Linked DNA regions of Homo sapiens: regions 1 and 3 are each linked to region 2. The links come from fine-mapping of genetic effects on gene expression. A gene starts in region 2. Each other region holds a variant in brackets. All regions are shown on one strand. Distances are between the middles of the regions.

The links. PIP is the estimated chance that this variant, and not a neighbour inherited with it, causes the effect. A credible set is the group of variants that fine-mapping cannot tell apart.
Region 1: its variant is the best candidate, but not a certain one, in a credible set for the expression of UBASH3B in whole blood (INTERVAL, PIP 0.89).
Region 3: its variant is the best candidate, but not a certain one, in a credible set for the expression of UBASH3B in lung (TOPMed, PIP 0.60).

The regions. Positions count from the first base shown.
Region 1 is chr11:122,812,409-122,822,888 of GRCh38, forward strand. UBASH3B (ubiquitin associated and SH3 domain containing B) reads left to right here. Exons shown (of 14, transcript NM_032873.5): 14 at 1-2,065. Among named protein-coding and RNA genes, the nearest start is that of CRTAM, 21 kb to the right of the region's middle. RefSeq lists enhancers at 184-792, 793-1,400. The variant GA/G (reference allele first, on the strand shown) is at 4,973.
Region 2 is chr11:122,651,744-122,661,916 of GRCh38, forward strand. UBASH3B (ubiquitin associated and SH3 domain containing B) reads left to right here and starts at 3,979. Exons shown (of 14, transcript NM_032873.5): 1 at 3,979-4,467. The coding sequence starts at 4,307. RefSeq lists an enhancer at 3,884-4,385 and a silencer at 4,589-4,638.
Region 3 is chr11:122,825,415-122,835,894 of GRCh38, forward strand. No RefSeq gene overlaps it. Among named protein-coding and RNA genes, the nearest start is that of CRTAM, 7.8 kb to the right of the region's middle. RefSeq lists an enhancer at 6,762-7,434. The variant A/G (reference allele first, on the strand shown) is at 5,684.

The DNA.
Region 1 (10,480 bases), 160 kb after region 2:
ATTACTCAATTTCATATACATCCAAAAAGTATAGGCTAATATATATAACCTGAAGTTGCAGCTGGTTCTTTTTGATCTGAAGCTGATGCTTATTAAAACAAATGATGTATGGGGAGAGGAGAAGGAAGGGCAAGGAAGGAATTGACAGATAAGAAGCAAATGGTTTCTTGTACAGAGGAATTTTGTTTTAATGTAGAAAGTTATTTGAAATAAACTAGGTGAAATGAAATTAACTAAAGGTTTTAATCTGGGATTGAAAGCCTGAAAGCATTTCCTGCTTCTACAAGTGTGCCACATCAATCCGGTAATGCCCCAGTGTTATTCACAGACAGAACTTTGTTTCCTGTGATTTTAAAATACCGCGTCTGTTCCTCCATGGACCAGAGTAATTGGCACATTTTAATGCATAAGCTGGGGGTTTCATTTTCCCAGGCTCTCTTCACCATCACTGCATTGGTAGCTAGGAGCTTATTGCTTCACCCCAGTATGGAGTTCAGATTACAGTGTTTTCCATTACATTTAGATTCATAGAATCTGAATGGCTGATTAAATGGCCATCTGATGGCTGAAAGAGGGGCGTATTTTTCACTCTGTAGTGAAAGGCTTGGAGGAGTTTCTACTTTTTATTTTAATTATACTTTAACCAAAGAATTATTTTAAAGTAACCTTATATTTAAAAGATGATTTTGCAAAAAATAAAAAATAAAAAATATGCCTTCTGGAGTGATGTCTGTTTGGTAAATCATTGTTGATAATTTCCTTGTTAGTGGTATTTGGAATGCATATAGATTGTCTTGTCATTGTGCTTAACATTACCATAAGTGTGTCTTTTCCACTCAACTAGCTGTATTCGTATTAAAATGAAGTCTCTTATTTCAATTACCTAGTGTTGTTGGGAACTAATTGAACAGCTACAGTAAAAGAAGTTCCTATCTCATTGCCTTTGTGGAAAGGCTTCCCTATGTGGTAAAAGAAAGGCATTCCTCCGTAACCTAGGCACTCTGCAAGTCCAGTGTTTAATTTCAAAGCAGTGATGAATTGCTCTTTTGAAATTACTCTAAGTAATCCATGTGTTAGAATACAGATGAACCTCCGTTTGATTTCACAGCCTTCAGCACAGGCAACTGTTACTGAGTCTGCACGAACTTAGATAATGAGGTGCAGGGTTATTTGCATTTAAATTGCAATCCAGCACACGTGTGAGAAAGAAGAGGCACTAGTCTAAAAGGCTGCATTGCGGGGAGAGATGAGACAGGCAGAGGAGGGTGGGGTAAAGAGCGATTTAACATCTATTTAGGTTAATGTTCACTTTACAAAGGTGATGGGGGATATTTTGTTAGGTGATAGCAGAAGCTTTTCATTTTTAAACATAGAATTAAAATTGGATTTGCTTCTCTTTAATACTTCAACATATTGAATTTCCCTAGGAAAGTGACTAGCTATAATGAAAATTCAAGCGAAAAGGGAAAAAGATTGTAAATGCAGATGAAATAACTTCATTTTTAAGTACAAATAATAGTAGGATTGGTGTATGTAGGTTTAAAATTATAGTGATGACTAGTCGAACTTAATATACAATCAGTTCTTGCAAATACTTTACACTTAGCTGCCATTACACAACAAATTGGAATTTTCCAGCTGTTCAACTATCATGGACTCTGTACAGGATAGATGTGTATAATGGAAAATATGTACTGCTTCTTTCTTTGATTGCCACTCAAGATGGAAACACCATGCCAAGGCATTTTGGTTATACACAGATCATTCTAAACCTGTTATTTTGGAGAGGTGTATTGGTTTCTTTCTCATTTATAAGGCTATTGTATTTTTTTTTGTATGTGATTCAGGTGTATTTATTTGAAGACTATTTGTAGTTATAGGAAAACCACACCTACCTGTATTGCCAAATTCTTTGTAAACTCTCCGTGGCACTTGTGCTTTCCTGGCTGAGAGCTCTCCCCTGTTGATACAGCTATGGCACCATTGTAATTACAGATGCACCTTTCAGGAGCATCTCCATTAAATGGTTCATAGATGATTTAATAAAAAGAAACTTCTCAGTTGATCCAGAGCAATGTCATTTTAAATTCTGAGTGGTCTCTTCCTATCATGTTTTCAGATGTTACTTTGTTCATTATTATTTCATAAATGTGCATTCAGAGTGTGATTCTGTTTTCAAAAGGCCAGAGGGCGCTTTCTGCTGATGGAAGGGGAGGATGCTCCAGCAGCACTGTGTGTCTCTGGACCCTTCTGACCAGGCATCAAGCCTCCATGCCATTCAGACTGGGGAGCTGAACACCCACTCTGTGTGAAAATAGCAAGCTTCAAAATGCTTCCCCTGCCCTATGTGCAAACTAGGAGACAAAAAATATATTTCCTTCTACCTATCCTAGGTTCATGGCTGAGGCCCCTATAACAAAACATAGATTAACAAAAGAAAAAGCATACAAGTTTTTCATGTCTTGGGGCCAAGGGAAAGCTTTCCCTCTGCCCTCTAAAGGTTCACTGAAAATGACTGACAAGAGGCAGATTAATAGAAAAAGCATAAATAAATTTATTAACTACGTGAGCTTGTAGAGTATCACAGAGTGAGTGCCCAGTCTCCCAACGGGGTACAGATGCTTATATGCCCTACATCTTAGGGGAAAGAGAATGGGGAGGTGTGGGTGATTTTAGGCAGATAGTAAATGATTTTTAAGGAAATTCAATGGACTTGAAGAACATACAATGGTCTGGGACAAAGTCGGTCAGGCCTACAGAGTGGACAGTCATTTGGGACAAAAGTCTGTCCAGGTTTGTTGTCAGACTTTAGTCTTCCATCCTGTGATGTGAGTTCAGTCAATGGAAACTCCGAGAAGGGACCAGAAGTAATTGTTTCCTTCTTTGGTAGATATGAGAATAACCTCATCCTGTGCTTTGGGACAGGTAGAGGACTGAGAGGGGATAGAGGAAGGAAAAGCAATTGTTCTCCTTGGTGGGCCTGTCCAGTCTTTATGTAGATAGGGGAAAGGCTTCTTTTAGCATCTGTTGATCTCTAAGGGCCTTTAATTCAAAATACTCAGCTGGGTGTGGTGGCTCACACCTGTAATCCCAGTATTCTTGGAGATCAGAGCCGGAGAATTGCTTGAGCCTAGGAGTTTGAGACCAGCCTAGGCAACATAGCAAGACCCTGTCACTACAAAAAAATACAAAAATTAGCCAGGTGTGGTGGTGTGCACTTGTGGTCCCAGCTGGTCAGGAGGCTGAGGTGGGAGGATCGCTTGAGCCCAGAATGTCTAGCTGACAGTGAGCCATGACAGTACTCCAGCCTGGGCAACAAAGCGAGACTCAAACAAACAAAAACCCAAAATACTCATTATACCAGGGAGCCATATTTGGGGGTGAAGCTCCCTGTTTTCCTTCACATGACACAAAAGCCTTCATAAGGAAATGAAGATTTGAAGAAAACTAGTTAAACCTGAATATTTCAATGCAAAATTTGATGAAGAATAGATAGTCATGGAGAAACGTGATAGAACTAAGAGTATGATCTAATGGTAATAAACTGGGAGGACTTAATGAGGCCTGTGTGTTCAGATTCCCCTGGGTGTCCCTCTGTCTTCAGAGATGAGGGTGCTCATTTTCTCCCGCTCTAGGGAAGGCACCTTTCACATGAAGTTCTCAGGACCTGCGTCAGGAAAGGTTAGAGTCCTTCCTAGGTTTTATCACCTGATTCAGGGGAGAAGGGTGGGGCGGGGGAGAACAGTCAAAGTGACCTTTCTGCTCCTGTTTTTTTCTCAGATTCCTTCATCTTAAACTATTCAATAGGCTGAGATGCAATATTTTCGGGTATAGTGCCCTGAACTCCATGTCACCTTCATGGTTTACTACTACCCACCATCTACCTCAAGGAGTTGCACCAAGAATGATCCAGAGAGTGAGAATTTGGGTAAGAGAGAGGGCACATTCAGCTCAAACTAGAATCTGCACTTCTAAAAGCCATAGACCATTTTTTGTTGTTGTTGTTGTTTTTATGTTTTTGTTTTTAAGATGGAATTTCACTCTTGTTGCCCAGGCTGGAGTGCAATGTTGTGATCTCGGCTCACTGCAACCTCTGCCTCCCGGGTTCAAGTGATTCTCCTGCCTCAGCCTCCCAAGTAGCTGGGATTACAGGCACCTGCCACCACTCCCAGCTGATTTTTTTTGTATTTTTAGTAGAGACGGAGTTTCACTATGTTGGCCAGGCTGGTCTCGAACTCCTGACCTCAGGTGATCCACCCGCTTTGGCCTCCCAAAGTGCTGGGATTACAGGCGTGAGCCACCGCACCCAGCTGACTCTATTTTTTTGAAGTAATTATATGTTAGGCTAATAAGATCTTAAAATAAGCCTTGAATGCAAATTTGTACCGAGGACATGAATACAGATTTTCATTAACCCAACTGTCTACTACCTTGGCAGGGTTTACTTCCTGAGGAAACATAACAGCTAATGTTCATATCTGACAAAAGACCAGGCTATATTTAGCCTTCTGGCTGGTTCTCAGCCATTCTCTGCTTGACAGATTCCCAAACTCATTCTGCTCTTTTGTGATGTACGTAAAGGCTGCTTGCACATCCAGAGAAAACGAATAGTGTACTTGGGATTTGTTTAAGCTTAAATCAGCAAAGTGTCTGTTTTTGGTTTTTTTGTTTTGGAGGGTTTATTTGAAAGTTGTTTGAGGACCAAAAACAATCTTCTTCCTGAAGAAAGAAAATACTTCACTGTGCCAGAAATAAACATGTAAAGCCCAATTGGCTTGGTTCTGGCTATGTAAAGAGGTAGGGGCGTGAAGGGAATGTACCAAGGGAACGTAACAAGGGAACTGGGTGAAAGATCAAAAGTGGTAAAAGGAAGGAAAGACAGAAATGATAACTGGTAAAACAAGTTTTAGAGGAGCCAGTCTGGAAGTTTTCCAAAAAGGCCAATGACGTTCTAGTTAGCAAAAAGGAAAAA[GA/G]AAAAAAAAAAAGGCCAGGCACAGTGGCTCATGACTGTAATGCCAACACTTTGGGAGGCCAAGGCAGGCAGATCAGCTGAGGTCAAGAGTTCGAGACCAGCCTGGCCAATATGGCGAAACCCTGTCTCTACTAAAAATACAAAAATTAGCCAGGTGTGGTGGTGCATGCCTGTAATCCCAGCTACTTGGGAGGCTTAGGCAGGAGAATTGTTTGGACCTGGGAGGCAGAGGTTGCAATGAGCTGAGATGGAGCCACTGCACTCCAGCCTGGGTGACAGACCAAGACTCTGCCTAAAACAAACAAACAAACAAACAACAAAAAAGGTGGGGAATGTGGGATAATTTGGCTGACTAAGAAGTTCTCATGGGAGAAATAAGATCCCAACAAGAGGAGAAAAGCCTTAAAAATATATATAGTCTGAATATCACCTTTTAATTAAGCTGACTTCTGAGAATAATGCTCTTTTTAAAAATCTTTTAAGTATATCATTAGCAGTTTTGGGCAAACAGCAAACATTCTCATTTCCTGGCTTTTCTTTCCCTGAAGTTTGCATTTTAAGAGGGATGGTTTCTTAGGTAAGACAAGGGAGAGAATTGACAGGTACAGAGAAATACTGAAAGTTTTTAGAGGTTCAGGGTAATTAATAATCAAATTTCTCTTTTGAGTACAAAGTACCTTTTTAGCTCAAATGAGAAGGCAGAAAGCAAACCAATAAAACAAAAAAAAAATGTTTTTAACATGCTCTGAATATAAACCAAAATTTTAATCCAAAGGTATATTCAACAAGTGACTCAAGACTCAACTAATAAGCCCCTTTATGGCTTTAACCAAGGTGGCCTTTCCAAGATCCAGACCACTCTCACAGGACAACCAAGGAAAGGAAAGCTTAGCTAGCCACAAATGGATGTAAACCCACATTTTAGTTCACCCATATTCTTGAGGCGCTCAACTTTTTGTTTGGCTGCCTGCAGCAAAGAAATCTGGGATAACCTACATGCCCCTGATAAATGGAGAATCAAAAAGAAAGAACAGTCAGTAAGACAAAACAGGAAAACAAAAGTTGTCCATCTTTGCAAAAATTATGACTGAGCAAATTATTACAGTGAAAGAGATCTGACCTAACCAATTTTGTCTGGCTTCTAACCTCTAAGCTGTCCTTGTTCATTTCTAGGTGTAGGCCAAACTAACTTGGGGGGAACTTAGTTTATAGTTTAACTTTGAAACAAAGACAATAACAGCCTTCTCCAAAAACAAACCCCCTTCTTGTCAGGGGACTATACTGCCTTTGTAGGACTAAAAAATTAGCCACAGGATTAGAAATTATGGCTTAGGAGTCATTGCTGTAAAATCTGAGATCAGTGTTTGAGATATTTTGCAGACCCTGCATTGATTGATACACCAGCTGATGCCACCCAAATTGATAAACTGGGTCATCTGATTTTGTGTCATCCACCCAGGAACTGACAGCACAAGAGGACAGCTTCAAACCCCTATGATTTCATCTTCTACCTGACCAATCAACACTCCCTGCTTTCTGATTCTCTACACACCAAATTATCCTTTAAAACTCCAATTCCAAAATTTTGGGGGAGATTGATTTTAGTAATAACTTTGTCTCCCCATGTGGCATGGCTGGCCTCACATCAATTAAACTTTTTCCTTACTGCAATGCCATGGTTTTTATTTGTGCAGTGGGCAGGAAGAACACATTGGGCAGTTCCAAATTTGAGGGCTCATCCAGGATCACCCTTGTGACTACTGCTTGTGGTTTGGTAGCCCCCTCTCCAGCAATGGATCTAGAGGCCAGCCCAAGAGGCTGCCTAATTCTCTTGGACTGGAGGCTGTCTCTGGCACTGTTTCTACTGGCAGGGCATTGACAATCCATGGTGCATGGATTTCATTGCAATGGAGAAAAAGTCCTATAACTGTAACCCCATCATTAGATGTCTGTCTGTGGTCCTATCATGGGGTGTCTGATTTGGTGCATATTCTAGGTGCTTCCAGCACCTCCTTTCTTCTCCTGATTGGTTTGGCTTCTTCTGGGGTCTTGGTTCAGCTCCTTTAAGGGGCTTGGCTGAATCTCCCTAAATAGTAGGAAGAGTCTTGGTTCAGGAGATTTTTCCTTAATCAGGAAGATTTTGGGGAGATTTCTCAGGAAGAGAGTAGGTGGTTAGTTTGGAAAGAATACTTAGAATTATTGGTTAGGGATCTTTGTTTAGAAGGTCTTCTGTCTGTCTTGTGTTTGTTGTGTCTGTGTTTGTATATGTGGAGGTGATCTCTGAAAAAAATGCTAATGGAAGTCAAGCAGGCCTAACTTGGAGAACTCTCCTTATTTGGTCACATTAGGTAAACCCTGAAGCAATTGTTAGCAGAAGCTCCACAGGTCTGACACAGGGTGACCATCTGCTCTTCATCTTGCCCACAGATCACCCACTGAATTCGCAGTTGAAGGTCATCTCTCCCCACCTTGAGTGGATCAAAGATGACAGGGATGAACAGGGGCAAATTTGAGCCTTGCCAGGTCAATATCAGGTGCTGAGAAAGGTGACTAGTGTCTATTTTGTTATATGTATTTTGCTTTGGCTGGGATGGAAAATGTTCATTTGTTCCCCAGGCAGTCTGTTGGGCATCATCTTGCAAAACTGACAGGCTTTTGCCTATGGTTTTATGAAACAAAAGGAGATGATTTTCCCTTGTGATGCTTCTTGGCTCCCATGGTCCTTGGAATAGAGGGGGAAAAAACAAATTTTCAGTACTTTCATGGAGAGCTAATATATTCTTGAGGTTTGCTAATTCAGTATCAAGCAGAACAGGAGTTAATGCATGGACTGAACTAATAGAAGACTGAAATTATCTCTTATGATTTTTTGTTTAAAACATTTACTGATTCTTTATGTTTTGTTTTTAGAGTCAAGAAAAATTTTTTTTCTTTTGAGCTAACTACAGCTTTTATCAATTGAATAAAGTATACTCTGTGAGAAAACCTTGGAGCATATTTCTTTCTCTCTACCTGATTTCTCCGGAATTTGGAAACTATTTGTGAGTATTCTTAACTTTATGGCAGTATAGTTATTTGCCTACATGTAATAATAATGTTTGCTTTTATAACAGGACATCGCTGGAGACACTGATTATTTTACCAAGGTTTTGACTGTAATGGCATACTTCCATATACAAACAGACTGCTTTAAGAAATCAAAGTTGACTTATAGGGCCAAGAAAACCCCTGGTAAACACTGGCCTTAAACCTTTTCTATGCAGTCCCTGTCCAGGGTTCTCGATCTGTGGTAAGTGAACAATATCACTTTCTGACAAGCCCAGGAGCCCCAAGTTATCTTGGAACCTCAAGGAGAGGAATTCACCCAAGGGTCATACTGATATTTGCAGGCACAGATAAATCCATGGCTGGGCTCAAGGCTTTGAAAAATCTAAGCTGAAATTCCTTATGGAATAAAGTTCCATTAAAGTCAATTTTCAAAAAAGCCTATATGGCAAATAATTATTCTTGCTGACTTTATGCAAATATTCATGCCAAGTATGATAAGACTAACACTTATTTTGCAAGCAAATTTGTTTTTAATAAAAATGGGGACTGGAGAGAGACAAACTGTATTTCAGAGAAAGCTATAGTACCTCTGTTGTTAGATTCTAGTCTTGTCCACTGCTTTTGAGTTTTTATTATTTTCTGCAATTTAGACTGATTCCTGAATTCTTTCTGGGTTACAGGTCCCAAAACTAATGTTTTCAAATCTTTCTTTCATTTTTCTGACTTGAACTCAGTGAAATTGCTGCTATATCTTCCCTGAGGCCCTGAAAGCTGAAGCTTATTCCTTGTGGTACAGGCAAGAAAAACATGTCAGATTGCCACTGCCTTCCTCCTCTATAACTAAAGATGCTTTGAGTCTAATGTTTCAATAAATTATGCCCAACATTAACCTTTGTTTTTCTTCTGTTTCCACAGAAATGCCTCCTATTAAAAGCTTGTTTGCTGTCATCACATACAGAAGCCTAGCCCATCTGCACTGCCACTTCCTGATATGGTAAACAGCTATTTAACTGAACTGATCTAGTCTCAGGACTAGGAAACCAATTAAAAATATATGGGTTGGTATATTTAAATTTGCCCTTTCCTGTCTATCCTAATCAGTCTTTCTAATAACCTCTGACCCAAATATCTCTCTACTACAGACCCCATTTCTGATTGATTCTTCGCGCTATTCACCTGGATCCCTCAGAGCTTCAGATCAGTTCCACAAAGGCTTCTGAAGCTAGGACTCTCACTCCTTACCCTAGAACTCATTATTTACTTTATAGCTCATTTAAATGCTGTGCTAAAACGATAGAGAAGAATACTAATGCCTTTGTCATGCAAGCCTTGAAACCCCGATTAGGCACCCTGAGTGTGTGCAGACAGCTGCAAGGCAGTTCCACTCCTCTTACCTTGGAGTCAGCTCCTACTCCCATCATGCCACATGTCAGCAAGAAAAAGCTAGAGTGGTCATTGTGCTTTTTCCATCTTCATAGCCCACATCTTAAGAATAAGGTGTTATAAAACCCAAAGAGAGAGACTGAAACTGCCTTTGCAAAAATTACTGAGAAAATTATTACAGTGAAAGAGATCTGACCTAACTGACTCCATCTGGTTTCTAACCTCCAGACTGCCCTTGCTCATCCCTGGATGTAGGGTGAACTAACTTTGGGAGGAACTTAGTTTATAGTTTGACTTTGAAGCTAAGATGATAACAGCCTTTCCCAAAACAAACTCCCTTTTTGTCTGGAAACTAGACTACCTTTGCAGGACTAACAAATTAGCCACAGGATTAGAAATTATGGTTTAGGAGTCACTGTTGTAAAACTTGAAATCAGTACTTGAGCTTTTTGTTTTGTTTTGTTTTGTTTTTTGCACTCCCCATATTCCGATACACCAGCTGATGCCACCAAGATTGATAAAATGGCTCATCTGATCTTGTGGCCTCCACCCAGGAACTAACTACTAGCACAAGAAAACAGTTTCAACTCCCTGTGATTTCATCTCCAACCCAACCAATCAGCACTGCCTACCTTCTGACTCACTACTCACCAAATCATTCTTTAAAACCCCAGTCTCCAAATTTTAGAGGAGATTGATTTGAGTAGTAACTCCATCTCCCATGCTGGCATGCCTGGCCAGCCTGACATCAATTCAACTCTTGCTTTATTGCAATGTCATGGTCTTTATTTGTGCAGCAGGCAGAAGAACCCATCAGACAGTTACAGCAGGGGGAGGATCATTAAGGAGTGTCCAGAGTCATACAAATAGCTTCCAAACCTCTAAAGGTATTCCTGCCTCAATTGTGACTCAAAATCAGTAAGAATTTTTATAACTTAAAACCAATAAATGTAAGAACTGAGTTTTATGGAGGATACATGCAGTCCCTCTCAAGATCTAAAGTCTCTTTCAAAGATAGCCTAAGACAGCAAAGATCCTCATTGTTAATAAGACAATGAAGTTTAAGACAATTAAGAC
Region 2 (10,173 bases):
GATCCCCTTAAAGTCTAGGGGTGAAAGTCATTCCCAGCAGTTCCAAAGCTGCCTTTGTTTGGCAAGGCAACACCCCAGCCTTTAGGATTTGAAACAGTGGGCAGACTTTACTGCCTGTTTTTGTTGTTGTTGTTATTTGTTTGTTTTTTTGTTTTGTTTTGTTTTGGGACGGAGTCTCGCTCGGTTGCCTAGGATGGAGTGCAGTGGCGGGCGTGACCTCAGCTCACTGCAGCCTCTGCCTCCCAGGTTCAAGCCATTCTCTGTCTCAGCCTCCCGAGTAGCTGGGATTACAAGCACCTGCCACCACACCTGGCTAATTTGTTTGTATGTTTAGTAGAGACAGGGTTTCACCATCTTGGCCAGGTTGGTCTTGAACTCCTGACCTCGCGATGCACCCGCCTCGGTCTCCCGAAGTGCTGGGATTACAGGCATGAGCCACCGCGCCAGGCCTTGTTTGTTTTTTTTAACAGGGTCTCACTTTGTCACTCAGGCTGGAGTGCAATGGTGCCATCTCAGCTTGGCTCACTGCAACCTCGACCTCCCAAGTTCAAGCAATCCTCCTGCCTCAGCCCTCCAAGCAGCTGGGACTACAGGCACACACCACCATGCTGGGCTAATTTTTATATTTTTAATTAAGATGGGGTTCACCATTTTGCCCAGGTTGGTCTCAAACTCCTGAGCTCAAGCAATCTGCCCACCTGCCTTAGCCTCCCAAAGTACTAGAATTACAGACCTACTGCATGTTCTTATTGTTATTACTTGACCGTTCCTCAAGGACAGAGTGAAGGAGAAGGAGAAGATATAGGACATGCTTCAGAAATTGTGAGTGCAGCCAACTGGGTCCATCCTGGGTCTCCCTCTGGCCATCTGAGAGGATGTACCATAGCAAAAATATGGCAGGGGCCAATGAGGGAGGGTTAAACATGCTCACATGAACAAAGAGAGCTTTGTGGTCCAGAGTGGATTCTGACATGACCACACACGGAGACATGTCAACTTGCTTTCCCTTCTGAGGGAGGAACTTCATGCTGATGTGTCAGCTCTGTCCCTGTGCAAGACCCCTACTCCCATCTCACTTCTTTTGGCCACTGTAAGATATACTGCCAGATGAATAGTCATTTCTCTTCTCTCAATTTATTTATTTGTTTAGAGATGGAGTCTTGCTCTGTCACCAGGCTGGAGTGCAATGGCATGATCTCAGCTCACTGCAACCTCCGCCTTCCAGGTTCAAGCGATTCTCCTGCCTTAGCCTCCGGAGTGGCTGGGACTACAGTCACATGCCACCATGCCCAGCTAATTTTTGTATTTTTAGTAGAGATTGGGTTTCACCTTGTTGGCCAGGATGGTCTCGATCTCTTGACCTTGTGATTCGCCCACCTCAGCCTCCCAAAGTGCTGGGATTACAGGGGTGAGCCACCGCACCCAGCCCCCCTCTTCTCTCTTTGTAATAGAACAGTGTAGACATTTATGAAGCTTTTCCTAGCTTTTCAACGTCAACACAATTAAAGCACAATGCATCTGAATTGCCAGCCCCCCAACCCAGTGCAGAACAAATGGCAGGAGTCCTAAATAAAACAGGGGTTTGCACTGAGCTGAAGACAAGTGAGGAAGCCAAGCTGGGATTTCTGTAAAAGTGTCCCAGACAAAAACAGTTTGCATCTCAGGTGCCTAGTTTTTCATAGTGCTTTTTCCAGTCTACCTAAAACTATTTTTATATGCATCATTTCCTTTATCTTACAGTTTGCCTAAAGGCAGGGAGAAAGACAATTAATTCAATTTTTCTGGAGAAACAGAGATCCAGCAATTCTATGTCAAGGGGCATAGATGGAGTCAAAAAACTATCTTAAAGGCTGGTGTCCTTTTATCATCATAACAATGGTCGTTAACTAGTTGTTTGGCCAAATGTTAAGAGTTCAAATCTTGGCTCTGCCATTTACTAGCCATGTGACCTTGGACAAGATACTTGACCTCTGGCTCAGCACCTTCATTTGTAAAGTAGTTCCTAGTTCATAGTCTTGTCAAGGAATTGTTTGAGTCACATATGTAAGAAGCAAAGAACAACACCAGCATATAGTAAGTACTCAATAAATTTGAGTTATCATTTATGTAGCGCTTTATGGTTTACAAAGCGCTTTCACATACATTATTATCTCTTGACTAAGATCCAGATCATTTGACTTTCAGCCCAGGCATTTGGAAACAATTCAGAATACTGGATAAAATCCAGCATGTTTTACCGAACACATCCAAGGAGGCTAATACTAGGTATGGTGTTGCCAGCCCAGTCTTGTCTTTTTGCTCCATGTCCTGGAAGAGCATTCTGCAAGGTCTCCAGGATATCCCCTTTGCTCTGGAAGCAGCTACTACCCAGGAAGCATTAATTTTCCCTCATCCTTTGTACAGCAGGAGGCAGAATTAATACACATTGTTGCTTAAGCTCCAGCTGTCTTATCTCCCTGCTTCCAAACACCACTGGCTATTCTTTAGGAAACCAATTCCGGGCTCAGGGAGTTACACTGTATCATTTCCCCTGGTAAAACCTTCACAGGCCTTATAAAGCAACCTCAAAAAGCCACTCCATGGGTGCTGGTCACCATCCCTCCCCCATATTCCAACCAGGGACAGGCCCGGACTGACATTTCTGGAAAACCCAGTGTGTGCAAGGTTAGGTTACCACGGTCCATACCAATGAGGAAATTAGGCTGTAGAGAGAAGTAACTTGTCTAAGGCACCGCAGTGGATACGAGTGCTGTAGCTACGCACTTACCAGCTCTATGATCTTCCCCAACCTCTCTGAGCTGAGTTTTCTCATCTGTAAAACTGGGATAATGATTAAACACACTCCTAGGGTCAGTATAAAACTTCAGTGAGTTCATTCATTACGATTAGCACAATGACTGGCACATACAAGAGCCCAATAAATGTTAGGTTTTATTATTATTATTACCCAAAAAAGACTATCAGTTAGGGTGTACTCATTGCCTCTTTCATTATAGCAAGTGGGACCCTTGTCCCTGACTGAAGACAATGACTTTGTTTCCAAACGAAAGAGGGTTAGCATCCCCCAGCCAAATTCACCAGGTGGGGCATGGGGCATCAATATGGTTGTGGCTTCCACCATCTTTGCAGTGGGAGTAGTTTTGTCCAGCCTATGATACAATTCACTTATTATTGTGCAGTGGTGATTCGGTCCGTCTTTGAATCCTTTTATTGACAGGATATCCACTCCCTAATGAAATAAGCCCGTTCCCTTTTGAACACCTCTTATAATTAGGAAGTATGTTTTCTCTGTTCCTTCTTCCTCTACCCTCCTAGCCCTTCCTTCTTCTCCTCCTCCTTCCTCCTTTCTTTTTCCCTTCCCTCTTCTTTCTGCCCTGTCCCTCTTTTCTTGTCCCCTCCCAGGTCCTGCCACCTCTGAGAACCTGAGGTCCTTCTCCCCAACCCCTCTGCCCCACCGGGAAGGCACTATTCAGTCACTGACCATAACCTTGTAGAGCGCAGTAGGTCTTTAGTGCAGCCACTTGGCCGGCTGATTGGGAACTCAACTTCCGATGGTCCTAACAACCCTTTGGGTTTTGCAGGATCTTTGAGAAGCAAAACCTTTTACCTAGGCCTTACGGCTTGGCCTTCTGGTCCATTAGTATCATCCACCAGTTCACCCAATTTCCATTAATAACCGCATCTAGAATCACATGAAACTTGAGATGGGTTGATCTCCTGTCTTGAGGCCCAGCTGGGCGGGTATGCCAGCCAAGGAGAGGGCTGGGGCGCCGGGGGTGACTCTCGGGAGGTGAAGCACACAAGCAGCCCATAAGGTTGGGATCCTCCGTCTCCAAGTAGCGCGACTACAGCTCTTGCCCGCACGGAGCAGCCTCGGACAGCGCGGCCGCTTTAAGAGAGGGGCGGGGCCCGGGTACAGGCAAGTCAGGGCCAGCCCACAAGGCTCCTTTTCCTTTTTGATCCATTCAAAAATTACTCATTGCAAATTCCCGGACTGCTAGGCGAGGAGAGGGAAGGGGGCGGAGGAGACAGGGCTACTGCAGGCGCAGAGCTGGGGGCAGCCGGGGGCCCGAGTGGCTGAGGCTGGTCCCGCAGCGGCCGCTTGCCGGCGTTCTGGCTCCTGTGGCCTCACCAGGAAGCGTCAGAGTCCCGACACTGGGGAAGCTCGGAGCGCCGCCTCCGCTGCCGCCGCCTCCTGCCTGGCTCTGGGTCCCCGAGCCCCCTCCCCTGGCCCAGCCCGACTCCCTCCTCCTTCCCGAACCATCCGGCTCGGGCTCCTTCCCTGGCGATGGCTGGCCGCTGAGCCATGGCTCAGTACGGCCACCCCAGTCCGCTCGGCATGGCTGCGAGAGAGGAGCTGTACAGCAAAGTCACCCCCCGGAGGAACCGCCAACAGCGCCCCGGCACCATCAAGCATGGATCGGCGCTGGACGTGCTCCTCTCCATGGGGTTCCCCAGAGCCCGCGCGTAAGTGGCCGGGCTCGCAGCCCTCGGCGACCCCTCCCGCGCGCGCGGCCGGCCCTCGGCTTCGCTCCGGCTCGCCTCCCAGCGCCTGCGGGACAGGCAGCGCGCTCCCCGCTGCCCGAGACCTGTTGGGGGCGGGATGGGCGCGCTGGCAACCCGGGACTCGGCTCCGGGCGGGGGTGCGGGGGAAGACGCGGCGCGGGGGCGTTGGGCCAGGGCTCGCCGTGGGATGCCTAAAGCTGGGGGACGAGGGCGCGGGGTTCGAGTCCCGGGTATAGTGCTCAGCCTCCGCCCCAGCCGGGTGGAGCTCAGCGTTTCTCTCGCGCGCTCCCCTAGGTCTCCAGCGCCGAGCGCCTAGGGAGGCGGGGCCCTGCGGAGGACTCGGGCACCCTCTCCGTCTGGAATACTGGGCTGGTCTGGGATCCTCCGGTGTCTGGGAAAGGGCGGGAGACTGCGGGGCAGGGAGGCCGGCGCCCCCGTTGCAGCGGCTTCCAGCTCCGGATGTCGCTCTCGGGTTCGGTCTCCCCCTGGAGTAGGAGGAGCGGGAGCGTGGGTGTTCCTGCGTGTTCATTGATGGGGAGGATGGAATCAGAAGGAGAAGCGATCCCTCCAGGGGACCTGGGTTCTCGTCAGTGGTGACGGCAGCTCAGAAATCTGTGGGTGCCTGAGAGTAAGGAGGGGGAGCTGTTCTTCATCCTTCCTCTAGGAGAGTGGGGTAGGGGAGGGCAGGGAGAGCGCAGGTGGCTGCCCCTGGAGCCTGCTGGGGAGAGGCCTGTTTGCCAGCATAGGGTGGCGGCGGCCGGAGTCGTCTCAGGCCGGTCGGCTCAAGTCTCAGGGGCTGGAACTCTGCCTAAGAGGAAGCCAAGGCCCAGCGGCCAGGCCCTTCTCCCCTGGTTAATCCCTGCCGTGCAGATTTCTTAGGTGGGGACACAAGGCCTGGCGTCCGGACTGGGCGCAGCTTCTTTTCATCTTTGAATTACAGCACCTGAACAGGAGAGTTGGCCAAACTTAATCAGTGAGGGCCAAGTAAATGAAAGTCCTTTTTATTTTTTTCCCTTCTCACATTTTTTTTTCAGGTGATAACTTTATTTATGTATTTATTTTTCTGAGACGGAGTCTCGCTGTGTCGCCAGGCTAGAGTGCAGTGGCGCAATCTCTGTAACTTCCGCCTCCCAGGTTCAAGCGATTCTCCCACCTTAGCCTCCTGAGTAGCTGGGACCATAGACATGCGCCACCACACCGGGCTAATTTTTATATTTTTAGAAGAGATGGGGTTCTGCCATGTTGGCCAGGCTGGTCTCGAACTCCTGACCTCAGGTGATCCACCCACCTCGGTCTCCCAAAGTGCTGGGATTACAGGCAATAACTTTATGTCTCCCCTCCCTTATCTCTGGGCAAACCTTGTTTATTCTCTACTAACTTGGTTGTAATCTGTTAATCAAAGTAGACCCTTGAATTTGTTATTCTCCAGGCTGCTGGGACACGTTGGAGTGGCCTTAGAAGGCTGCAAAATGGACTGATGGTTTCTGCCTTCCACTGACGTCCCAATACGACTTCCTAATACTAGGGCTCCAGTTCCTGATACCAGAATTACAGGGAGAAAATGTGGGTTCTGCAGGGGTGTGTCAGGTGTGGACGCTTCAGGTGAAGTCGTCGGTGTGGATGATCAATGTGCACAGCTCTCCTTAAAAACTGGAGGTGGGGCTGGGTGTAACCCCAGCAGTTTGGGAGGCTGAGGCAGCCGGATCACTTGAGATCAGAAGTTTGAGACCAGCCTGGCCAACATGGTGAAACCCTGTCTTTACTAAAAATACAAAAATTAGCTGGGTGGGGTGGTGCATGCCTGTAATCCCAGCTACTTGGGAGGCTGAGATAAGAGAATCGCTTGAGCCCAGTAGGTGGAGGTTGTAGTGAGCCAAGATCGCACCACTGCACTCTAGCCTGGGTTACAGAGCGAGACTTCATCTCAAGAAAAAAAAAAAAAAAAAGCTGGAGGTGGGAGTGGGGAAGTCAGCTGGGGAATGCTGCAGAATTAGCATAGTCTCAGGCTACTGCCTTTTTTGAAATAAGGCCAGCATTAAAAACCTAAATTGCTTAATTAAGGGAAGAAATACTTAACTGAACTCCTCAGTCATATTTGAGATTCAAATTCAAATCAGCTTTAAAGGGACATCTTTTCTCCTGCTCTGAGTCCAGGAGGTCTTGACATGTCTTGACAGATTAGCATAAGGGTCATTTTTGGCTTGTTTAACCCCTGAGGTCTCCTAATAGCTAGCATGTATTGAATACTTACTCCATACTGTTCTAAGTACTTATATCTTTATTACCCATTTTATCCTCCTAGCAACTCAATGAGGAAGGTACCACATGCCCATTTTATGAATTGGGCAACTGAGGTTTAGAAGGGTTGCATAACTTGCTCAAGGTCACAACAGTAAGCAGTGAAGCTGGGATTCAAACCCAGGTATTCTATCTGCACAGCCCAGGCCTCACACCATCTAGGGCCAGTAGGGCCAGGATAGAAATGATTGAATGTGGGTAAAATGCTTAGAACAGTTCCTGGCACATAGTGAGCAATCGTGAAGTGTTAGTTACTGTATTAGCTTCCTGTGACTGCTGTAACAAATTGTCACAAACTGAGTGGCTTAGAACAGCAGAAATTTATTCTCTCACAATTGTAGAGACCAGGAGTTGAAAATCAGTATCGCTGGGCTGAAATCAAGGCATCAGCAGGGCCGTGCTCCCTCTGGAGGCTCTAGGGGAATCCACTCCCTGCCTCTCCTACCTTCTGTTGGGGGCTGGCATTCTTTGGCTTGTGGCTGCATCAATCCAATCACTGCGTTTGTGGTCAAATTGTCTTTGTTTTCTGTCTGTGTCCAATCTTCCTTGGCATGTCTCTTATAAGGATACATGTGGTTGTACTTAGGGCCCACTTGGATAATCCAGAGTAATCTCCCCATCTCAAGATCATTATCTGCAAAGTCCTTTAAAAAAAAATGTATAAGGCGGCATTCACAGCTTCTAGGGATTAGGATGTGGGTGTCTTTTGGGGGATCATTATTTAGCCTATCACAGCTATTATTATATTACTACTAGCACTGCCCCTCTTTACCAAAGAGGTAACAAGAGCAGGCCTGGAGAGAGGGAGGTTGGGTTTGCTGCTCTTTTTCTTAAATTCTCTGCCTGGAAGGGAGTGAAGGTCCTGGAGGTCACCTGATCTAGTTGGACTCCTTGCCCAGGCTTGCTTCCCTCCTCTACTTCAACCCAGAAAGGCTGATGTGGTCGGCCTTCCCCCCAGTAACTTAGACCAGTATGAAGAGGGGCCCTCGGAGGCTTCAGAGAACAGGCATTTAACTTCATTTTTGAGAGTTGAGAAGAAAGAGCAAGGGCATCGGGCTTAGCTCATCAGAAGCTTCTCTCTTGAGCTTTATGCCTGGAGGGCTGAGCATAATGAAAATCCAAAGCCCCAAAGAGCAGTGATGGTCTCCTGGGTCTAGAAGACTTGGATGTGATGCTTTAAGAAGGGGTAAGATGGTTGTCTCAAACCTGGCCCTTTTGACAGACTGACATTAGCCAGGGCTGACAGCTCTAGGCCCTTTTGACAGAGTGACAGCAGCCAGGGCTGACAGCTCTAGTTTCCCCTATGGGTGTAACTGGGTCTGGTGGTGTGCGGCACCAAGAAGGGGCACTCAGGCCAGGCTCTTGGTGGGCTGGCAGAGAGGGTTGAGGCCAGCAAGGCTGGATCCCACCCAGCCCGTGCTGGGCTGCACTGTGCTGTGGTCTTGCAAAAGTCACTTAGTCCCCTCAGGGCCATGCTGTTGCCCTCTGAGGGGAACGCAATTAATGACTGCATGCTTGTTAAGTGCTTGACAGAGCTAAGAGGACCAGAGGGCTGCAGGGCTGGCTCAAGCAGGGTGACCTCAGGGTGTGCTCTCTCTAGCTCATTACTCCCTGGAGCTGGGCTAGGTTTTTTCCATTCCACTATATGAACTTCAGTCCAACTTAGACACTGCTATAGGAGAATTTGCCTCATGGAGGACTGAGAAGTGGCGATTTCACGGTGTGTGTGTGCGTGTGCGCTCGTGTGCAAGTCCAAGTTAAGGAGGTGTTCGGGAGGCATCAGGAAGGAAACCTTTCAAAGGTCAAAATGGCCAATCGCTTCCTTTTTTCTATGCCCACTAGCACTTCCCTGTTTTAAGGGTTCTAAAAATAAGGGTCCAGCTTCCTTGAGGCTAGTGAGGTTGGTTGGAAGGAAAAGAAAGAATGTATTGGGGGCAAAGACCTGAGGAAGAGGAGACCTCACAGGCCAGGAGAGGGTCTGAGCCTAACACCGGAGAAGATGGGACAGGACTCAGATCAGAGCCATCACTTTGCACAGCCAGATCCGATGTCAGAGCACTGTCATCCCCCTGCTGACCTCTGGTTTCTGGGGAGACAGGCTCTCATCTCTTCTGTAGCTTGGGGCTGATGCTGGGCCTTGGAGCAAGTCACTGAATAATTGAATTGGAGGAATCCTTGCTGATACAACCCTGATGAGTTTTTTTATTATTTTTATTTTTTGAGGCTGCTGGTGGCTAGAACTTTGTCTACAACAAATGGCTTTTTAATGTTTCCAGTGATTAAGAGATAATAGTCTTGGGAAGGACACTGTGGCAGGGATCAAAGGTCCTAAGGTCTGGTCTAGCTTCTGAATGATATCTGCACCTTTTAGGTCTTCTATTTAACCTCTTTTCCTTAATATCTTCACCAGCTTCTGTGCGTGGCAAGACCTGTCATGTGTCACGGGCCTTTCCAAAGACAAAATGAGATAACAGACAGAAAAGAACTTGGGAAAGTTAAAGATAGGATCAGGATGCAAGATGTGATTGGGGCATTATTGTGTTGGATTGCAAGAAGGGAGAGGAGGTGAGATGGTGGTTGAGGTGTCTGGCGAGGATTTACGTGTATTATTGGATTGTCCTTTTTTTTCTACTGAGAATATTTGAACAATGCCAAATTAAAGAGCAAGGCAGTGGCAGAAGGAAAGAGCTGGAATGAGCGCTTTTGACTTGGCTTTGGACAGTAAGCTGTGTTAGCTATGCCTCACTGCCCAAAGATAAAAGCAGCTCCAAGTTGGCTGCATGAGGAGTTGAGAAGCGGCATGTGGAGCCCATGAATTAAAGTATCTGGTTTCCCTGGCTTTTTCCAGCTTACCTGTTGGTTGACATTGGATCCTCTGAGAACACTTGGCCAACCCAACATCTCTGAAATGTAGCTGACTCTGGCGTGGGGGCTGCAGCTGCTTTCCCAGCCTTGGATAGACAGAAAGAGGAAAAACTGGAACCCACCTGGAGCTGAAGGGCTCTTATAGGTGGGCAGGGCAAGGAAGTCTCTAATCTACCTGCTGTGACTGTGCACCCACATAACACGCCCTTCTATCTGTGTTATTATACACTGTAAAAATTGCTCTTATGTGTATTAGATACCCCACAGCAGTCTTGTGAGGTAAAGCACACAACATATGCTTTGTTTTAAGATGAGACTGGAGGCTTAGAGGAGTTCAGGACGTGTCTAGAGTCACACAGTTGGTATGCAGGGACTGCATTGCCATAAGAGCCTCAGGCTAAACTGCAAGTCTCCTGAACTTTCCAGGCTACACGAGGTCCTGGTTCCAAAAAAAAAAAAAACAAAAAAAAAAATACCTTGATATGCTTTTTTTCTTTTTTTTTT
Region 3 (10,480 bases), 170 kb after region 2:
CGCTTTTCCAGGGGAGGGGCAGGTACCCCAACCCCTTCTCTCTGTGTCTCTACCCCTTCTCCGCCTTTCTGGAGGGCAAGAAACCCCCAACCCCTTCTCTCTGTGTCTCTACCCCTTCTCTGCCTTTCTGGAGGGCAAGAAACCCCCAAACCCTTCTCCTTCACCCTTAGCAGGAAGTCCCACATTTCTGGGGGAGGGGCAAGTACCCCAACCTTGTATCTCTGTGCCCTGATCCCTTATTTCTGCGCTCCAACCTCTTATATCTCTGTGCCCCGATCCCTTATTTCCATGCCCCAACCTCTTATATCTCTGCACCCTGATACCTTATTTCTGTGCCCCAACCTCGTATCTCTGTGCCCTGACCCCTTTCCTGCTTCTCTGGAAGGTAAGAACCCCCAAACCACTTCCCTCTGTGTCTCTACTCTCCCTTTTCCTTAAACTTGCCTCCTTCACTATAGGCAACCTTCCACCCTCCATTCCTCCTTCTTTCTTCTCCCTTAGCCTGTGTTCTTAAGAACATAAAACCTCTTCAACTCTCACCTGACCTAAAACCTAAATGCCTTATTTTCTTCTACAATGCCGCTTGACCCCAATACAAACTCGACAGTAGTTCTAAATGGCCAGAAAATGGCACTTTCGATTTCTCCATCCTACAAGACCTAAATAATTTTTGTCAAAAAATAGGCAAATGGTCTGAGGTGCCTGACATCCAGGCATTCTTTTACACATCGGTCCCTCCCTAGTCTCTGTGCCCAGTGCAACTTGTCCCAAATCTTCCTTCTTTCCCTCCCACCTGTCCCCTCAGTCCCAACCCCAAGCGTTGCTGAGTCTTTCTAATCTTCCCTTTCTACAGATCCATCTGACCTCTCCCCTCCTCCCCAGGCTGCTCCTCGCCAGGCCGAGCTAAGTCCCAATTCTTCCTCAGCCTCCGCTCCTCCACTCTATAATCTTTTTATCACCTCCCCTCCTCACACCCGGTCAGGTTTACAGTTTCATTCTGTGAGTAGCCCTCACCCACCTGCCTAGCAATTTCCTCTTAAAAAGCTGGCTGAAGCTAAAGGCATAGTCAAAGTTAATGCTCCTTTTTCTTCATCAGACCTCTCCCAAATCAGTAAGCGTTTAGGCTCTTTCATCAAATGTAAAAAACCCAGCCCATGGGCAAAGACACAACCAAAAAAGAGAATTTTAGACCAATGTCCTTGATGAACATTGATGCAAAAATCCTCAATAAAATACTGGCAAAACGAATCCAGCAGCACATCAAAAAGCTTATCCACCATGATCAAGTGGGCTTCATCCCTGGGATGCAAGGCTGGTTCAATATACGCAAATCAATAAATGTAATCCAGCATATAAACAGAGCCAAAGACAAAAACCACATGATTATCTCAATAGATGCAGAAAAGGCCTTTGACAAAATTCAACAACCCTTCATGCTAAAAACTCTCAATAAATTAGGTATTGATGGGACGTATTTCCAAATAATAAGAGCTATCTATGACAAACCCACAGCCAATATCATACTGAATGGGCAAAAACTGGAAGCATTCCCTTTGAAAACTGGCACAAGACAGGGATGCCCTCTCTCACCACTCCTATTCAACATAGTGTTGGAAGTTCTGGCCAGGGCAATTAGGCAGGAGAAGGAAATAAAGGGTATTCAATTAGGAAAAGAGGAAGTCAAATTGTCCCTGTTTGCAGATGACATGATTGTATATCTAGAAAACCCCACTGTCTCAGCCCAAAATCTCCTTAAGCTGATAAGCAACTTCAGCAAAGTCTCAGGATACAAAATCAATGTGCAAAAATCACAAGCATTCCTATACACCAACAACAGACAAACAGAGAGCCAAATCATGAGTGAACTCCCATTCACAATTGCTTCAAAGAGAATAAAATACCTAGGAATCCAACTTACAAGGGATGTGAAGGACCTCTTCAAGGAGAACTACAAACCACTGCTCAAGGAAATAAAAGATGATACAAACAAACGGAAGAACATTCCATGCTCACAGGTAGGAAGAATCAATATTGTGAAAATGGCCATACTGCCCAAGGTAATTTACAGATTCAATGCCATCCCCATCAAGCTACCAATGCCTTTCTTCACAGAATTGGAAAAAACTACTTTAAAGTTCATATGGAACCAAAAAAGAGCCTGCATCGCCAAGTCAATCCTAAGCCAAAAGAACAAAGCTGGAGGCATCACGCTACCTGACTTCAAACTATACTACAAGGCTACAGTAACCAAAACAGCATGGTACTGGTACCAAAACAGAGATATAGATCAATGGAACAGAACAGAGCCCTCAGAAATAACGCCGCATATCTACAACTATCTGATCTTTGACAAACCTGAGAAAAACAAGCAATGGGGAAAGGATTCCCTATTTAATCAATGGTGCTGGGAAAACTGGCTAGCCATATGTAGAAAGCTGAAACTGGATCCCTTCCTTACACCTTATACAAAAATTAATTCAAGATGGATTAAAGACTTAAACGTTAGACCTAAAACCATAAAAACCCTAGAAGAAAACCTAGGCATTACCATTCAGGACATAGGCATGGGCAAGGACTTCATGTCTAAAACACCAAAAGCAACGGCAACAAAAGACAAAATTGACAAATGGGATCTAATTAAACTAAAGAGCTTCTGCACAGCAAAAGAAACTACCATCAGGGTGAACAGGCAACCTACAAAATGGGAGAAAATTTTCGCAACCTACTCATGTGACAAAGGGCTAATATCCAGAATCTACAATGAACTCAAACAAATTTACAAGAAAAAAACAACCCCATCAAAAAGTGGGCGAAGGACATGAACAGACACTTCTCAAAAGAAGACATTTATGCAGCCAAAAAATACATGAAAAAATGCTCACCATCACTGGCCATCAGAGAAATGCAAATCAAAACCACAATGAGATACAATCTCATACCAGTTAGAATGGCAATCATTAAAAAGTCAGGAAACAACAGGTGCTGGAGAGGATGTGGAGAAATAGGAACACTTTTACACTGTTGGTGGGACTGTAAACTAGTTCAACCATTGTGGAAGACAGTGTGGCGATTCCTCAGGGATCTAGAACTAGAAATACCATTTGACCCAGCCATCCCATTTCTGGGTATATACCCAAAGGACTATAAATCATGCTGCTATAAAGACACATGCACACGTATGTTTATTGCGGCATTATTCACAATAGCAAAGACTTGGAACCAACCCAAATGTCCAACAATGATAGACTGGATTAAGAAAATGTGGCACATATACACCATGGAATACTATGCAGCCATAAAAAATGATGAGTTCATGTCCTTTGTAGGGACATGGATGAAATTGGAAATCATCATTCTCAGTAAACTATCACAAGAACAAAAAACCAAATACCACATATTCTCACTCATAGGTGGGAACTGAACAATGAGATCACATGGACACAGGAAGGGGAACATCACACTCTGGGGACTGTTGTGGGGTGGGGGGAGGGCGGAGGGATAGCATTGGGAGATATACCTAATGCTCGATGACGAGTTGGTGGGTGCAGCGCATCAGCATGGCACATGTATACATATGTAACTAACCTGCACAATGTGCACATGTACCCTAAAACTTAAAGTATTAAAAAAAAAAAAAAAACCCAGCCCAGTTCATGGCTTGTTTGGCAGCAACCCTGAGACGCTTTACAGTCCTAGACCCTAAAAGGTCAAAAGGCTGTCTTATTCTCAATATACATTTTATTACCCAATCTGCTCCTGACATTAAATAAAACTCCAAAAATTAAATTCCAGCCCTCAAACCCCACAATAAGATTTAATTAACCTCACCTTCAAAGTATACAATAATAGAAAAAAGTTGCAATTCCTTGCCTCCACTGTAAGACAAACCCCAGCCACATCTCCAGCAAACAAGAACTTCCAAACGCCTGAACCACAGCGGCCAGGCATTCCTCCAGAACCTCCTCCCCCAGGAGCTTCCTACAAGTGCCAGAAATCTGACCACCAGGCCAAGGAATGCCCACAGCCCAGGATTCCTCCTAAGCCACATCCCATCTGTGCAGGACCCCACTGGAAATCAGAATGTTCAACTCACTTGGCAACCACTCCCAGAGCCCCTGGAACTCTGGCCCAAGGCTCTCTGACTCCTTCCCAGATCTTCTCGGCTTAGCAGCTGAAGACTGACACCGCCTGATCGCCTCAGAAGCCTACAGGACCAACACAGACACTAAGTAACTCTCACAGTAGAAGGTAAGTCCGTCCCTTTCTTAGTCAATACGGAGGCTACCCACTCCACATTACCTTCTTTTCAAAGGCGTGTTTCCCTTGCCTCCATAACTGTTGTAGGTATTGACAGCCAGGCTTCTAAACCTCTTAAAACTCCCCAACTCTAGTGCCAACTTAGACGATACTCTTTTAAGCACTCCTTTTTAGTTATCCCCACCTGCCCAGTTCCCTTATTAGGCTGAGACACTTTAACTTAATTATCTGCTTCCCTGACTATTCCTGGATTACAGCTACATCTCATTGCCGCCCTTCTTCCCAATCCAAAGCCTCCTTTGCATCCTCCTCTTGTATCCCCCAACCTTAACCCCCAAGTATAGGATACCTCTACTCCCTCCTTGGCGACCGGTCACGCACCCCTTACCATCTCATTAAAACCTAATCACCTTTACTCCTCTCAATGCCAAGATTCCATTCCACAGCACGATTTAAAAAGATTAAAGACTGTTATCACTCGCCTGCTACAGCATGGCCTTTTAAAGCCTATAAACTCTCCTTATAATTCCCCCATTTTACCTGTCCTAGAACCAGACAAGCCTTACAGGTTAGTTCAGGATCTGCGCTTTATCAACCAAACTGTTTTGCCTATCCACCCCGTGGTGCCAAATCCATATACTCTCCTATCCTCAATACCTCCCTCCACAACCCATTATTCTGTTCTGGATCTCAAACATGCTTTCTTTACTATTCCTTTGCACCCTTCATCCCAGCCTCTCTTCGCTTTCACTTGGACTGACCCTGACACCCATCAGGCTCAGCAAATTACCTAGGCTGTACTGCCGCAAGGCTTCACAGACAGCCCCCATTACTTCAGTCAAGCCCAAATTTCATCCTCATCTGTTACCTATCTCGGCATAATTCTCATAAAAACACACGTGCTTTCCCTGCTGACCGTGTCCGATTAATCTCCCAAACCTCAATCCCTTACAAAACAACAACTCCTTTCCTTCCTAGGCATGGTTAGCGTGGTCAGAATTCTTACACAAGAGCCAGGACCGCACCCTGTAGCCTTCCTGTCCAAACAACTTGACCTTACTGTTTTAGCCTAGCCCTCATGTCTGTGTGCAGCAGCTGCCGCTGCTTTAATACTTTTAGAGGCCCTAAAAATCACAAACTATGCTCAATTCACTCTCTACATTTCTCATAACTTCCAAAATCTATTTTCTTCCTCATACCTGATGCATATGCTTTCTGCTCCCCGGCTCCTTCAGCTGTACTCACTCTTTGTTAAGTCCCACAATTACCATTGTTCCTGGCCTGGACTTCAATCCAGCCTCCCACGTTATTCCTGATACCACACCTGACCCCCATGACTGTATCTCTCTGATCCACCTGACATTCACCCCATTTCCCCATATTTCCTTCTTTCCTGTTCCTCACCCTGATCACGCTTGATTTATTG[A/G]TGGCGGTTCCACCAGGCCTAATTGCCACACACCAGCAAAGGCAGGCTATGCTATAGTACAAGCCACTAGCCTGCCTCTTAGAACCTCTCATTTCCTTTCCATCGTGGAAATCTATCCTCAAGGAAATAACTTCTCAGTGTTCCATCTGCTATTCTACTATCCCTCAGGGATTACTCAGGCCCCCTCCCTTCCCTACACATCAAGCTCGAGGATTTGCCCCAACCCAGGACTAGCAAATTAGCTTTACTCAACATGCCCCGAGTCAGATAACTAAAATACCTCTTAGTCTAGGTAGACACTTTCACTAGTTAAGTACAGTCCTTTCCTACAGGGTCTGAGAAGGCCACCGCAGTCATTTCTTCCCTTCTGTCAGACATAATTCCTCAGTTTAGCCTTCCCACCTCTATACAGTCTGATAACAGACCAGCCTTTATTAGTCAAATCAGCCAAGCAGGTTTTCAGGCTCTTGGTATTCAGTGAAACCTTTATATCCCTTACGGTTCTCCGTCTTCAGGAAAAGTAGAACGGACTAAAGGTCTTTTAAAAACACACCTCACCAAGCTCAGCCACCAACTTAAAAAGGACTGGACAATACTTTTACCACTTTACCTTCTCAGAAGTCAGACCTGTCCTCAGAATGCTACAAGGTACAGCCCATTTGAGCTCCTGTATAGACACTCCTTTTTATTAGGCCCCAGTCTCATTCCAGACACCAGACCAACTTAGACTGTGCCCCCAAAAAACTTGTCATCCCTACTATCTTCTCTCTAGTCATACTCCTATTCACCATTCTCAACTACTCATACATGCCCTGCTCTTGTTTACACTGCCGGTTTACACTGTTTCTCCAAGCCATCACAGCTGATATCTCCTGGTGCTATCCCCAAACTGCCACTCTTAACTCTTGAAGTAAATAAATAATCTTTGCTGGCAGGACTATGCTGAATCTCCTTAGGCTCTCTCTAATCAGATGTCCTGAGTCGTCCCAATTCTTAGACCTTTTATACCTGTTTTTCTCCTTCTCTTATTCCATTTAGTTTTTCAATTCATACAGAACTGTATCCAGGCCATCATCAATAATTCTAAATGATAAATATTCCTTCTAACAACCCCACAATATCACCCCTTACCACAAAATCTTCCTTCAGCTTAATCTCTCCCACTCTAGGTTCCCACGCCGCCCCTAATCCCGCTCGAAGCAGCTCTGAGAAACATCGCCCATTCTCTCTCTCCATACCACCCCCCAAAATTTTCACCGTCCCAACACTTTACCACTATTTCGTTTTATTTTTCTTATTAATATAAGAAGACAGGAATGTCAGGCCTCTGAACCCAAGCTAAGTCATCATATCCCCTGTGACCTGCACATACACATCCAGATGGCCAGTTCCTGCCTTAATTGATGACATTCCAGCATAAAAGAAGTGAAAATGGCCTGTTCCTGCCTTAACTGATGACATTGTCTTGTGAAATTCCTTCTCCTGGCTCATCCTGGCTCAAAAGCTCCCCCACTGAGCACCTTGTGACCCCCACTCTGCCCGCCAGAGAACACCCACTTTTGACTGTAATTTTCTTTTATCTACCCAAATCCTATAAAACGGCCCCACACTTATCTCCCTTTGCTGCCTCTCTTTTCGGACTCAGCCCGCCTGCACCCAGGTGATTAAAAGCTTTATTGCTCACACAAAGCCTGTTTAGTGGTCTCTTCACACAGACACGCATGAAAGTTGCCTTAATGATTTACCACTTCCCTTCGTATAACTCTTTATAATTAAAAAAAAAAACACTTCCTCATTTGATCCTCATAACAATTTTACAAAGTAAGGAGATCAGGTATTATCAACTCAATGAATGAAACTAAGATACTGAGCTTGTGGATTCATTCATCATTCTGTAATACTTATTGAACACTATTTCCAGCAGAGTGGCAGGCTGGAGCTATAGTGGCAAAAAAGAATGCAAGGCCCCTGCTCTGATGGAGTGGGAGACAGAGAATGAATACATAAATAAACAAGATAATTACAGATTTTGATAAATGCTCTTTAGGAAATAAACTGGGTAATATGATAGAAAGTAACTTTGAAGGGATGTGGGGCAGGGGTTACACTCTTAGTTAGGGCATGGCGTCCCTGAACAGGTGATGATGAAACCAACAGTTAAAACTGAGCAGGAGCTGGTTGGGCTGAAGACCTAAACGAGGAGGGTATCAGGAAGCTGTGTATACAGAAGCCCTCACATGGGAAGACACTAGCTGGGTTAGAACAGAAGAGGCTGGGGAGCTAAAGTGTAGTAAGCATGATAGAAAGTGGGGGGCTTATAAAGACATGGGGTCTTACAGACCAGGGGTCAGCAAAGTATTGCTCATTGTGCAGAATCTCACTCGTGAGCAGAATCTGGCCCACAGCCTGCCTGTACAGCTGCAGGCTAAGAATGATTTTTAGCTTTTCAAATCTTTGGGGGAAAAAGCAAAGAATAAAGAGATTGATATATGAAATTAGAGTTCCAGTATATATAAATAAAATTTTATTGGAACACAGCCTCATTCACTTATTTACATATTGCCTATGGCTATTCCAGGATACAAGGGCAGAGTTGAGAAGTAAAACTATTTTAAATGTTTATACTTGGCCCCTTGCAGAAAAAGTGGGTTGATCTCATCATAGACCACGGTGAAACATTTGGATTTTATTCTAAATCCACAGAATCCAGCATCAAAACTATTTTACCTGACATAACAATTCATAGATTGGTGGCATCCAGTGGCCAGCAAAGTAACAGCTAGCATTTGAGTGCTTGTATTTATCAGACACTTTTCTAAGTACTTCACATGTGTAAGCTTTTTAAATCTTCTCACCAACTCTATTCGGTAGAAACTATTATTCCCGATTTATGAAAGAGGAAGTTGAATCTTAGAAAGATTCAATAATTCACACACAGTCACACGGCTCATGAGTGTTAGGGCTGAGACCAGGACCATGTCAGCCTGGTTCCAGAGCCTGGACTAATCATGGAAAATGTTTTTTAAAAGAAACTTCAATGAAAATATTGCAGAAGCCTGAGGTGTCTTGGGGATACTTGGGTTCTTCAGAATACAGTTTGGAAACCACAACTTTCATCTAATCTCATTTATAGATGAAGACGCCAGGGCTGGTCACTTATCTGGGCAGAGCTCCATGAGCTGGGGCCTGAAGCTGGCCCTTGCTATCCTGTGGTATACTCTCCGAAACCACAATTGCCTTCTGAAATCAGCTCATATTTGGGTTGTTTTCAGAATGATCTATTTCACTAGAGTAAATAAAGTTTCTACCCTCACGAAAGCCCAGGTTCACAATAGTAGGTTTTTTCGGCAGAAGTCTTAACAAAAGGTGAATGATGCCTTTCCTCCTCCCGGCACACCCAACCTACCATGGTTCCTGTGGGGATGAGATGCTGCTCCAGCCACCTGAGGTCTGCAGATTTATGGAGAATGTTTTTTGTGCCAAGATGCTGGGTGCTCTGGGTATTATAATATTTTCAATTTAACCATCCATGAGTGCCCCATAAAGAAGGTGTGGCCCCGGGTGAGCTGGTTCTCTTCCACCGAGGGCAAGTATAAAAATTTGAAGTCCTTCAAAGGAATCTCATAGACAAAGAAAAATGTGTGTGTGTGTGTGTGTGTGTGTGTGTGTGTGTGTATCACTGACTCACTGTGTCACTTCAGGCAAACTTCTTAATTCTTTGGGTTTTTTAAATTTTATTTATTTTTTTTGAGACAGAGTCTCGTTCTGTCGCCGAGGCTGGAGGGCAGTGGCGCAATCTCGGCTCACTGCAACCTCCGCCTCCCAAGTTCAAGCAATTCTCCTGCCTCAGCCTCCCAAGTAGCTGGAACTACAGCTACCGTAGTCTGGCTAATTTTTTGTATTTTAGTAGAGATAGGGATTCACCGTGTTGCCCAGGCTGGTTGCAAACCCCTGAGCTTAGGCAATCCACCCATCTCAGCCTCCCAAAGTGCTGAGATTACAGGCGTGAGCCACCACGCCCGGCCAATTCTTCATTTTTAAAAATGCTACAGTCGAACTTTCTCAGCTCCTGCCTTATGATTCCTGGACAGTCACCTCAGGCTGTAATTATTCTTCCCATTTTACAAGTGAGGAAACTGATTCCAACAGGCAGGTAGTGTGCTTAGTGCTACACAGCTGCTAGTGACAGGGCCTAGGGGACAAGCCTGGGTCTGTCTGCTACTCACTCCCATGCTCGTCCCACTAAGCTCCCACTACTGCTAGGAAACTTCTCTCTGAATCAATAATTAATTTCAAAGGCTGCTGCTCTGGCTTAGAAACTCCACAGTCACTTTGTGCAAGTTTTACAGCAGTGCTCAGAAAACCTCAACACTTGGTGTGAGTTATCTGAGGCATCTTCTGGTAGATGCAGGCGAGTCCACCTCTTACTCTGACCTTGGGAAAGGTCACGATTCTTCACAGAATCTGTGAAAGGTCAAGAAGAAAGTGTAGGCCCCTTTTGTAAATGCAACAAAAAAACCCAGTGGCTTCTAGACATAAGGAAATCCCCTGTTTTCTGACCCTTAAAACAGTTCATCTTTAGCCTATTTAATAAATGTCTTATTTTTCATGTTTGCACCCCCCCACCCCCAAAACTCAGGTTGACAAGGGTGACGATGAAAAATAGAGAGGATGTTTGTTTATTTCTCCAAAATATGTCCCCCCTCTGCCACCCCACCAAATGTTATTTCCTATTAGTATTGAAACATAATATGAAGATTTCATAAAACGGAGACCAAAATGACAAACTAGCTATCA